Linked DNA regions of Homo sapiens: region 2 is linked to region 1. The links come from fine-mapping of genetic effects on gene expression. A gene starts in region 1. The other region holds a variant in brackets. All regions are shown on one strand. Distances are between the middles of the regions. Region 1 holds the start of AFDN (afadin, adherens junction formation factor). Region 2 has its middle 11 kb from the start of LINC02487.

Region 1 (5,365 bases):
CTTGCAGAAAACTAAAAAATTGGACTTGTGATGGCCAAATAGAGTAAAAATAATCATTAGATGGTTAAAAAAAAAAATTCACACGAGCTTAGACAAAGCAAATTGAAACTGTTGGCCTTGAAATACTGGCTGAGAGAATTACTCATATTAAGTTTACCTACATCATAATAAAAGATACAATATGTTAAATGCAAAGCTTAACTAGGACCAGAATAAATTTAATAGTACAGGAAAGTTCTCGAGAAAACAAAATAGAAATGTGAGCCAGCCACTATATAGTAAAAAAGCTAAAAAACCAATATATGGACATTCTTAAAAACCATTCATTTCATTATGAAAGGCTTCTAATACAATTCTGAAGAATAATTTCTAAAAATGGAAATGTTCAGATATAAGTAGGGAGAAAAATTAGGAAATGAAATATATCATCTTTTTTTCCAAGTCCTTCAATTCTTGTTTTGCTTCAGTGTATGTACAAAGCAAACTTTCACCTACAGTATAACTGAAAAAACAGCTTTCCAAATGACAGGCCAATTTTAAAAACTAGTCATATCACTAAGAAATAAAAAGTTTCAATTGAGTGCTTAAAATAGAATTTAATTAAATCAATGAACTATAATGTTTCTGATTTGAGATTTTTTTAATGCTAACTCAATTCAAAATCCCAAAAAGCTGAATTCTCTTTATTAAACCGAAAAAAGATTCCTTTCCACCAGACTTGAGAAATCTCTCAAAAAAAAAAAAAATCCATTCAAACAAAAAAAAAAAGCTACACACCAAGAAAATGTTTTATGGTCAACTTTTTTTACCTTGTGATAAAAAGAAAAATGAATTCATTATTCTAAAAGAAAACATAATCCTGAAACTAAATTATCATGTCACCTTTCTAAAGATACACTAGTCTATGAACGAACACTTAAGTACATAGTACTAACTCCCTTACTAGAACCTAACTCATAAAATCATTACAGAAGATGAATGAATCAGGAGTAACTTAACATAACATCTATGCTCAAATTGACAACCTGAGCCTAATGGCGTGTGTCAGTATTCAACTCAGTATTAAGACAAATGGCTAGCTACCCACGTCAAGTGCAGTCACAGGTACAGATGAAAACAGAAGAAATAGAGTCCTTCCCATGACTGGCAAAAACTCAAGAAATCAGAGAAGCAATAGTCAAATTCTCTCAAAAACATAAAGTGGAATTTAATGATAAAAGGATTACATTTCGTAAGAATGTTCAAATCTGCCAAACATGTTTTGTTGCCTAGGAGCTAGTATTTTATAGCAAGTATTAACTATAAATTACCTATTACAACAAATCAAAAATAGACGCTATTAAAATGATTTCCTAAACGGGCACAAATATTGAGTGAAATTTTTTTATGCTGGTAAAGTCTGTGCAGCCACCGAATGAACAGAGCGCGGAACCGACCCTTGCGGAGCGATTTACAGGGTTGCTCCCCGACCCTTCACCTCCCTCCCCTCTCCACGGAGCCCTTCCTAGTGGACTTGGACTCAAACATTTTTTTAAAAGCTGCTCGGAACGCTTTCAGCAGCTTTGCTATAAACAACCCCCATTGTTACCAGGCCAGGAGCGAGCGTGATTTCCTCCTCCTCTCAGGGAGCCAGCCTGGGGCCGGCGCCTCCCTCCGGGCAGAGGCCGCCGCAGAGGGCCCTTCCTCGCGGCCCCGAAGGTGGAGAAGGCGCGCCTTTCCTCGGAGGCGTCCGACTCCGGGCCTGTGCCATCAGGCAGCCCGCACCTCCCGAACTTTGTGATACTGACTTTCCCCTCCCAGCTGGCAGCCTGCAAGTTTATGAACCCGAAGCACAGCGCGCGTCACAGGCTCCATCCCGGCCACGGCGAAGGGGCGCCGCGAGCCACAACCGGGCTGCAGGTGGAGGGCGCCGGCCCCGCGCGCCGCCGCGCCCCCCGCGCCGCCGGGGATGAGGCCGGGGCCGCGCCGCGCTCGCGGGGGTGGGGGCGGCGGCCCAGGTGAGCCACCAGGTGAGCGGCCGGAGAGGGGAACAGGTGACTGCCGCGCCCCGCCAGCCCCCGCTCGGCCCGCGCGACCCCGGGATACACCGCGGCAGGGGGACGGGGGCTGCGGGGGACGCCGGGGCCCGCGGTGGGCCTGGGGGAGGGGGAGGGGAGAGAAGGGGCGGAGGGGGGAGGGGGAAAGGAGGGCGGGTCCGCGGCTGGCGGGCGGCGGCGGGGGGGAGGGGCGGGGCGCGGCGCAGCGGGCGGGGGTCGCGCAGGCCCCGCGCCCGGCGGTGCTCACCTCGGTCGGCTGGCTGATCTCGAACAGGTCCAGCCGGTTGGCGTTCCAGTGGTGGATGATGTCGGCCAGCTTCCGCCGCTCCTCGTCACGGCCGCCCGCCGACATGGTCCTGGCCGCGCCTCCTCAGCCGCGCGGGGCCGGGGCCGGAGGACGGGCCGAGGACGACAGGTCCGCGGGGGCCCGGCGCCCCTCGCCACCCCCCGCCGGCCGCCTCCGCCTCCGCGGCTGCCTCCGCCTCCGCGGCCGCGCCGCGTCCTCCGACTTGGCCTCCGCCTGGGGCTCAGTCCGCGCCGCGCCGCGCCGCCTCAGCCCCGCCGGCCGGTGTGCGCCCGGCGCCCGCCGCCCGCCGCCCGCACCCGCCCGCGCCCCGCCCGCCGCCGTGCGCGCCGCCGCCCGCCGTGCGCGCCGCCGCCCCGCGCGGCGCCGCCGCACCTCCGGGCCGCTCCACTAGGTGCTGCTGCCGCGGCCGCCAGGGAGGGAGGTGTCGGAGGGCGGGCCCCGCGCGGTGCTAGGGTTCCGTCTGGACTGGCGGTGGTGGGTCCCAACCGGCGGTACCGGGTTCCTTCCCGACCAGCGGTGCTAGGTTCGGTTCGGACGCGCGCTGCTGGATCTAAATGGGCAGTGCTGGGTCCGATGGGTGGTGCTGTGTTGGGTCCGGACGCGCGGTGCAGAGTCCGGACGGGCGGTGCTGGATCCAAATGGGCGGTGCTGGATCTGGACGGGCGGTGATGGGTCCGATGGGCGGTGCTATGTTCGGTTCGGACGGGCGGTGCTAGGTCTAAATGGGCGCTGCTGGGTCCGATGGGCGGTGCTGCGTTCGGTCCGGACGGGCGGGGACGGGCGGTGCTGGGTCCAAATGGGTGGTGATGGATCTGTGGACGGGCGGTGCTGGTTCCAGACGGGCGGTGCTGGGTCCAGACGGGCGGTGGGTCCGATGGGCGGTGCTAGGTTCGGTTCGGATGGGTGGTGCTAGGTCTAAATGGGCGGCGCCGGATCCGATGGGCGGTGCTGGGTTCGGTCCGGACTGGCGGGTCCGGGTCTGGACGGGCGGTGCTGGATCCAAATGGGGGTGCAGTGCTGGATCTGGACGGGCGGTGCTGGGTCCGAACGGGCGATGGGTCCCATGGGCGGTGCTAGGTTCGGTTCGGACTGGCGGTGCTGGGTCTAAATGGGCGGCGCTGGGTCCGATGGGTGGTACTGGGTCCGGACGGGCGGTTCTGGGTCTGGACGGGCGGTGCAGTATCCAAATGGGCGCTGCTGGGTCCGGACGGGCGGTGCTAGGTTCGGTCCGGACGGGTGGTGCTGGGTCTAAATGGGCGGTGCTAGGCTCAGCAGGGGACCGGTGGGCGTGGCGGCACAGGTACGGAGCGCAGGGCCGGTGGAGCGCCCTCTCCGAAGGGCCCTGCGCTCCCCGCGCTCGCTGCTCCTCCTGCCCGCGCATTGCCCCGGGGCTGCTGCGTGTTTCTTCCAGGGTGATTCCTTTCCGCTGGGTCACTTCAAAGCCGACCTTTTCAAGCTGTTTTCTTCCGCGGAGGACACGTTGTTAGGCTTTGTGTGCATTTCAAGGGTCATGTTTTCTGAACCGCGCTCTGCCGCTCTTGGGGTGTTCGAGCCCCCACACTGCTGTGCGGTGTTCCTCTCACAGAGTGAGGTTGGAGGGTCCCACTCCCTTTGTGTGTCTCCTTAGAAAACGCCTCTTCTCTCAGACACATCGTTATCTGCCAATTCTTCGCAGACGTAGAGAACGGACTGCAGAGTTAATAAACGTCGAGGGGAAGCTTTGATGCGCCCCATTTGGCCCTGAGAGATGCCACGTGATCGTCATTTTAAATCCTGTACGTGTCCCCGTGGACGTGGAAACCTGAAATTAATTTCAGTAGCAAGCTTTGTGAATTGTAGGGATTTTTTTTCATAAGGTGTCTTTTTTGTAATTGCCCCTCCCCTCCCCCACCCTTTGTTTTGGCTGCAGAGCGCCATCTCTGCAGTCTCCCCACGCCGGGTTCAGTCAGGCGAAGTTGCGTTATCTGTGATGTGTTGTAACAAAAAGCGTTTATCTTTGAAACACTAAGGCAAGTAATGAGAAGAGTGAACTATATTTGACAAAGCCTTTTTATTTTTGTCATTACTTTTTTTTCCAATGTGGAAATAATTTTTCTCTCCACCAACTGGATTTCCTCTTTTGCAGACAATTAAAGAATTCTGTCATCCCCACTGGGTTCTGTCTTTTCTACCGCACTTGTCCAGTACAGCTACATAAGGAGGCTTCTCAGCAGAGGAGCCTGGGGTGTTGAACCAGTGCCATGAGGGAATGAATTATTCAATAGATCGCTAGTCTCCTTTCTTAAAATTAAAGTGTGGTGACTTGCAGAAAAGCATCTGTGTCTAAATGTCATCTTCGTGTTCTAGCACTCGGTTTCTTTATGCCTTTCAGTTCCTGGGCTTCCCGATGGACTCGAGTTTTTACTATGTGAGCATCCCGGTGCCTGCACAGCAAGGACTCTCATTGGGTTCCACACGTGCTGCGCAGATCCCTGACGCAGCGTTCACTGAACCTCAACTGCAGGAGCTTCATTCCTGAGGACGCTGTTACCAAGAATGACTTGCCTCTTGAAGAATGAGTTTGCAAAGCCGGCAGTTAGATTGCTGATGTCCAAAGTAAGTATGTGTAGCATCACTAAAGAGAAAATTCAGGATTCCTGGAAAACAGTTATGGGCTCTCTGCAGTGTTATTTTTGTAATAAAAAACATATAGCATATGTGAAATACCTACTGGGTGATGCAGGACACATAGAAGGCTCGAAATTAATGTGAATCATTCTCGTTTTTCTGACTGTCATTAAAAGTCCCCATTTGTATTATGTATGAGTGGTATATCAATATCTAAACTACACTTTATTGTAGGTCCCAACCAACATTAGTTTATTGACAAATGTTTAAGAGCAGCCAAAAATTCATAGAATACCTATGATTCTTAAATCATGAACACTCCCATAACTGGTATATGTTTAGGACATGAAAATTTCCAGGCTGACAAATAATTTCGCTGTCATCGGTCAAGACTCCAGGATGATATTCTGAGCCA
Region 2 (5,372 bases), 120 kb after region 1:
GGGTGATGCCAGGCTGGTTCATAGGCTGCGAGGTGTGATGGGTGATGAGGTTCACCCCCCGATACTTTCAGCTGAAGCTATTTGAGAAAAGTGCAGAAGCAGGAAGCCACACTCACCTTCCTTCCTCCTCTCCTGACTTGGGTCATAAAAGTCAGGCAGGACTCTCTGGCCCTCCCGGGAAGCTGGTCTAGGAGCCCCGCCTGTGAGAAGTGGCCACCCCATCATGTGGAGTGGAGTGTCCTTAGCTCGGGAGCTGAAGGGCCACACAGGCCTGCCAGGTCCCCCCGCTTTGCTGCCAGTAGATCATGCTGCTTCCTTCTGTTCTTTCCTTCCACCGCCCCATTTTCACCAAACCCCCTGTGAAACACACTCAGGCTCGCCTGTTTCTTCGGGTTGGCATTTCCTTATGAAGGCTCTTGTGTCACATAAAACTTAGATGAAGTAAAATGTGCACTTTCCTTTGTCCATCTGTCTGTTGTGATAGAAGCTTCAGCCGTGAACCTAGGATGGGTGAGGAAAGACGTCTTTCCCCTACTGAGCAGCTCTGTTGGAAGTTTTGCATCCTTTCCTTCCTCCCCTGTTGGCTGCTATTCCCAGGACCCCTTCCTTGTCCACTGTCCCTCCCTTCCCAGCCTGAATGCGACAATGGAGACTGCCTTGGGACGGCTTGGAGGGCCTCCACTGGCCTTCCCTTCTGTGCCTCTCTTGCTCTTCCTGCTGTCCCCACCCCTGTGGGTCTGCATCCTGCAGAGGTGCACACGGTTCCTGTGGGACAGTAGAGAAAGCATAAGCTATACACAGGCTGCTGAGCAGGTGCCACACGCTCTCGTGCTTAATCTATTCCTGGACCTGGGCTACAGAAACACGCCAAGAAAAAGGTGTAGAAGTTATTACCCTGAAAGGAAAGAATCATCAAAACGAAATTCAACAGGTGTCACCCAAGGATGTTGGCCTAGGAAGGCACTCCCTGGATGCGGCGCCGTGCTGTGGGGTGCCTGCGGCTGTGGGGTGTGCCTGGGCCCGCCATGGGTCCAGGGCAGCCTAGGGCGGGTGTGGATGGGAGCCTGCAGGGCTGGGGTCTCAGTGGAGCGGGAATCCTGTCTTGGCCCCAGGATCTTCCTGCAGTGCTTCAGGTAACATTTTTCTAGGCTGCAGGAAGATTTCCAGGAGCTTCCTTGAGATGGCTGCAGCCTTGTTTGCGTCCTTGGTGAATACGTAGATGTTTCACGATTCTTGGTCATCTCTGAATCCGGGAGATCGACGCTGAGTCCTACTGGCGCTCCTGCTGCCTCGCTGGGCTCACTGTGGGTGTCCAGCGGCCCTGGACCAGCCCAGATGCAGCCTCTCGCCTGGAGGGTATTCAGGAAGGAGGCCAGTGTCAAGCAACTCCACCCTATGGATTCTGTTTCAGATAAAACATGCTCATTTGGCCAAGGCCAACACAGGCACCCTCCCCCTGCTTTGTCTGGACGTAAGCAGCTGAGGCTTGGCCCTGCACCGTCAAGAGGTCTACCTGGCTGCAGAGGCTCAGCCTCCCCCCTGAGCACTGTGGGGTGTCTTCCACCCTCCCCATCACATGCTAAGCTCTTTCCTTGTAGCCATGGGGCATCGTGACAACATATTTAGCAAAATGCCACAGCTGTCATACGTGTGTTTCTCCAGCTGCTGCTTCTGAGCCAGCTTCCCAGGCCTCGGATAGACCAGAGTTCGCTCATCATGCCGTCTCTTCAGTGACTGATTACGCGGGAATTCGGGAAGTGCCGACTTTCCCCGGATGACTGGGTTTCTTGATGTGATACTCCGCTCAGCAAATCCTACCTTCCTTTCCCTTTGCAATTCTTGAGACCATTTTCTGCTTGACAATAAAGTGACCTTAAGGCACCGTGTTCATTTCAGTTTCAGACAGTTGTTTTGCTCCTTTTTTCCTGTGAGAGAAAGACACGAAGCCCCCTTCCCTGCTGCCGACTTTCTTGGTGTGTCCCTGATGCCAGGCCACCTGTGTCTTCACGGGAAACTCCACAGACCAGGGGCTGTGTAAGATGTCTGGGTGATGTACAGTCACTTTCTGCAAACTTAGAGCATGAAATAGTCAGGACAACATGTCAGCCAGGTCATACCCTTCAGTTGACTATAGTTTTGTCTGGGAGTGAAATTCTAAACTGCCAAGCAGCTTCTGTGTTATGCTGTAATCATTTAGAGCCTTCTCATTTTTGTAAGACTTTTGACTTATCTGTTTCTTGCTTAAATGCTTTCTTCTTTAGTTACGCCTTTCCTGGATGGACATGCGGGCTGTGCTATGTCTGGAGAGGCACCGGGAATCCAGTCACTGAGGCATGCTCACCGTGGCTTCAACTGTGGGCATTGATTTCTTCCCTGAAACCCTGGAGGAGACACATCGGGGCTGTTCTCCTGGCTTCTTCAGGTGTGTGTTCACACCTGCATCTGGGCCTTATGGCCTCCCTCACGGGGCCACATGGGAAGGCCGGGTGCAGGGAGGCTTCTGTGGTGGGGCTGGGGGTGTCTTGTGAGCTTCTTCCTCTCCCTCTTTTCTTCCTTTGTTGTTGTTTTTTTAAATCATGAAGGAAGAGTGATTCCCAGAATCTCACCCCTCTGGACTTACCCTTGGTCTCATTGGCCAGAGCTGGCCACGTGACTACCATACTGGCCATGGAAACTGAGGCAGCAAATATCTGGGTTTTCAGGCTATGGTGGGAACAGCTGTTGAGAACAGCAGCCGGGTCTCAATCGTGGACTGAAGTAAAGCTGGCTGTAGGTCCTCATCCTGCTGTCCCGTCGCTGCAACGAACCGCAGCTCCTCTCATCAACAGGGGCTCCTTTCCCACCCTTGGAGGCCGCGCAGCCTCTGACTTGCTTTGGCCGGTAGGAAGGGGGCCTTGCCCAGCCGAGGCCTAAGACGCCGTGAGCTCTTGCAGTTCCCACGAAGCCCTGTACTGTCACGAGCATCTGCCTGGGGCCCTGAGAGTCTCTGCGGGGCCCAGCTGGCGTGGGAGGGGGCTCGGCAAAGCTAGGTGAAGCCACCCAGCCGAGCCGGCTGAGCAGATGCATTCATTCTCCTCCGCCCCAGCTCAGAGAGCAGCCCTGCCCCAACACCACCTCGACGGTGAGCAGGCGCCAGTGGTGGTGGTTACGTGCACAGAGGTTTGTGGTTGTTTCTTGTGGTTACCACTGTGGCAATAGATAACTGATAATGGAAACAATAGCAACTACAGACGCCCTCACTATAGAATATTTAGAGGGCTAAAAATGTGTAAATACAGAAAATCACC[C/T]GGAAGCCTACCCTGCAGAGAAAACTATTATTAACACTTGGCAGGGGTGCCTTTATTTTTCTATATACTCCTTTTTCAAGTGTAGACATTATACGGTATGTAATTTTTTTCATTTAATGGTAAAAGTTTGTTTTTCATTTTAATGAACACTCTTCTTAAATATCAGTGTAATAGCATGTAAATATTGGGTTATTTGTATAGTTCAAAATTTGTATAAGCATTCCAATTTTGGATATTTGAATTTTTAAAATATTAATGCAATGAACATATCAGTACATAATATTTTTGCTCATATGCACTTTACTTCTTTCCTTAAGATGTATTCTTAGAGATGGGAGTCCTGGGCCAAAGGCAGGTGGCAGCGTCCCCGTCCTGTACCCATCCCGCTGCCTTCTAGGAAGCTGGGGCTGGGTCGTGTGCCCACATCCCATGGATGGAGAGTTCTGTTTCACTCACCATCAGCAGCACAAAGCGTCATCATTTGAAATGTTTCCTTCATGCTTCTAGAAGAAAGGTGTTTTCATTTTAACTCCAGTCGCATGGTGCTCACCTGCTGTGGTGCGTGTCTGTCTCCGCCAGCCGCAGGCACCAGCACGGGAGGCTTGTGTGGCCCAATTCTGGCATTGATATTTGTGGGAACGTGGGTGGACAGGGCCCGAGCAAAGTTTGCTAGTCCCTGAGAAAACAGCCCAAGAGGACACATCTCTTCCTCTTCCACTGGCCATGGTCAGATCTGAATGTGACGGTGGGACCATCGCAGCCTCTCTCGACCCAGGGTCCTGGCTGCCTGAGACGCGCAGAGCTCCTGAACTAACCAACCCTGAGCTCGCCCTGCCCGGATCTGCACCTCCGTTCTTTAAGGAAATGCACGTGGTGCTGCTCCAGCCGTCAGGCTTGTGCGTGTTCTCTGCGGCTGGCGCCTCCCGCGTGCCGTCCTGTGGCCTCGCCCTCCTCCTACTGCTGCTCGGCAGCTGGGGGCTTCTCTCCAGGGTCGTGTGATGGCCTTTTGAAAAATGTAACCAATAAACTCAGACACCTGGAAGCTGCAAAGTGTGTATGTGCCTCTTAATAAAAGATTTTTTAGCATGCTTGTAATTACAAATTTGTTTGCAATTAATATTAAATAAAGAAATAACAAAGAAGAAAAAGTAGATTTCTGGTTTGGTCCTTCCTGGGCCAGCTCTAGTTCAGGGGCTCTGAGGATGCTGTGGTCAGAGAGGCCCTACCAAACACCCCTCTCAAGACCTTTCTTCTCTGTATGGGTGGTGGAGACACAAAATAAACAGGGCTTTCCCTGTGAGGGACAGAAATAAAGAGGATTCAGAGAAGGCCACTCTGAGGAGGAGACATTGGACCTACCACGTGAAAAGAAAGAGAAGGAATTCACTTCAAGAAGGGTGAATTCTCATCAAGACCAGTGAAAGAGTATTTCAAGCTGTCTTGGTGCTGCACATTTGGCAGTAAAACCAGGAGCTTGGAGTACAGTGGTCTGAAGCAGCAGGTCCAGCGACAGCTGCCAGAGGAGGGTGGGCCTCAGGCTGACCCCGGGCAGGAGCTCTGTGCTGACCGTGGAGTCTGCTGGGGCCACTGTGCTATGTCTTCCACTGCTGGCCAAACCTTCGCCCAGGGTCCTGGCAGTGGCCAGAGGAAAACAAGCCAACCACGTTCAGACACGTTCCTGGAGCTGGGAGGAGTCTCTCTGGAACTGGGAGGTGTCTCTCCGGAGCTGGGAGGAGTCTCTCTGGAGCTGGGAGGAGTCTCTCCGGAGCTGGGAGGAGTCTCTCTGGAATGAGGAGGAGTCTCTCCAGAACTGGGAGGAGTCTCTCCGGAACTGGGAGGAGTCTCTCCGGAGCTGGGAGGAGTCTCTCCGGAACTGGGAGGAGTCTCTCCGGAACTGGGAGGAGTCTCTCCGGAACTGGGAGGAGTCTCTCCAGAACTGGGAGGAGTTGCTCCGGAACTGGGAGGTGTCTCTCCAGAACTGGGAGGAGTCTCTCCAGAGCTTTGAGGAGTCTCTCCGGAGCTGGGAGGAGTCTCTCCGGAACTGGGAGGAGTCTCTCCGGAGCTGGGAGGAGTCTCTCCGGAACT

Evidence for each region.
Region 2: its variant is fine-mapped to the expression of AFDN in whole blood (TOPMed, PIP above 0.99).

Annotation. Positions count from the first base shown.
Region 1 is chr6:167,824,156-167,829,520 of GRCh38, reverse strand. AFDN (afadin, adherens junction formation factor) reads right to left here and starts at 2,610. Exons shown (of 34, transcript NM_001386888.1): 1 at 2,284-2,610. The coding sequence starts at 2,388. AFDN-DT (AFDN divergent transcript) reads left to right here and starts at 2,725. Exons shown (of 2, transcript NR_027906.1): 1 at 2,725-4,118; 2 at 4,715-5,365. RefSeq lists silencers at 2,458-2,657, 3,572-3,641 and enhancers at 2,808-2,887, 2,918-2,987.
Region 2 is chr6:167,704,202-167,709,573 of GRCh38, reverse strand. No RefSeq gene overlaps it. Among named protein-coding and RNA genes, the nearest start is that of LINC02487, 11 kb to the right of the region's middle. RefSeq lists enhancers at 510-1,230, 1,231-1,952. The variant C/T (reference allele first, on the strand shown) is at 3,288.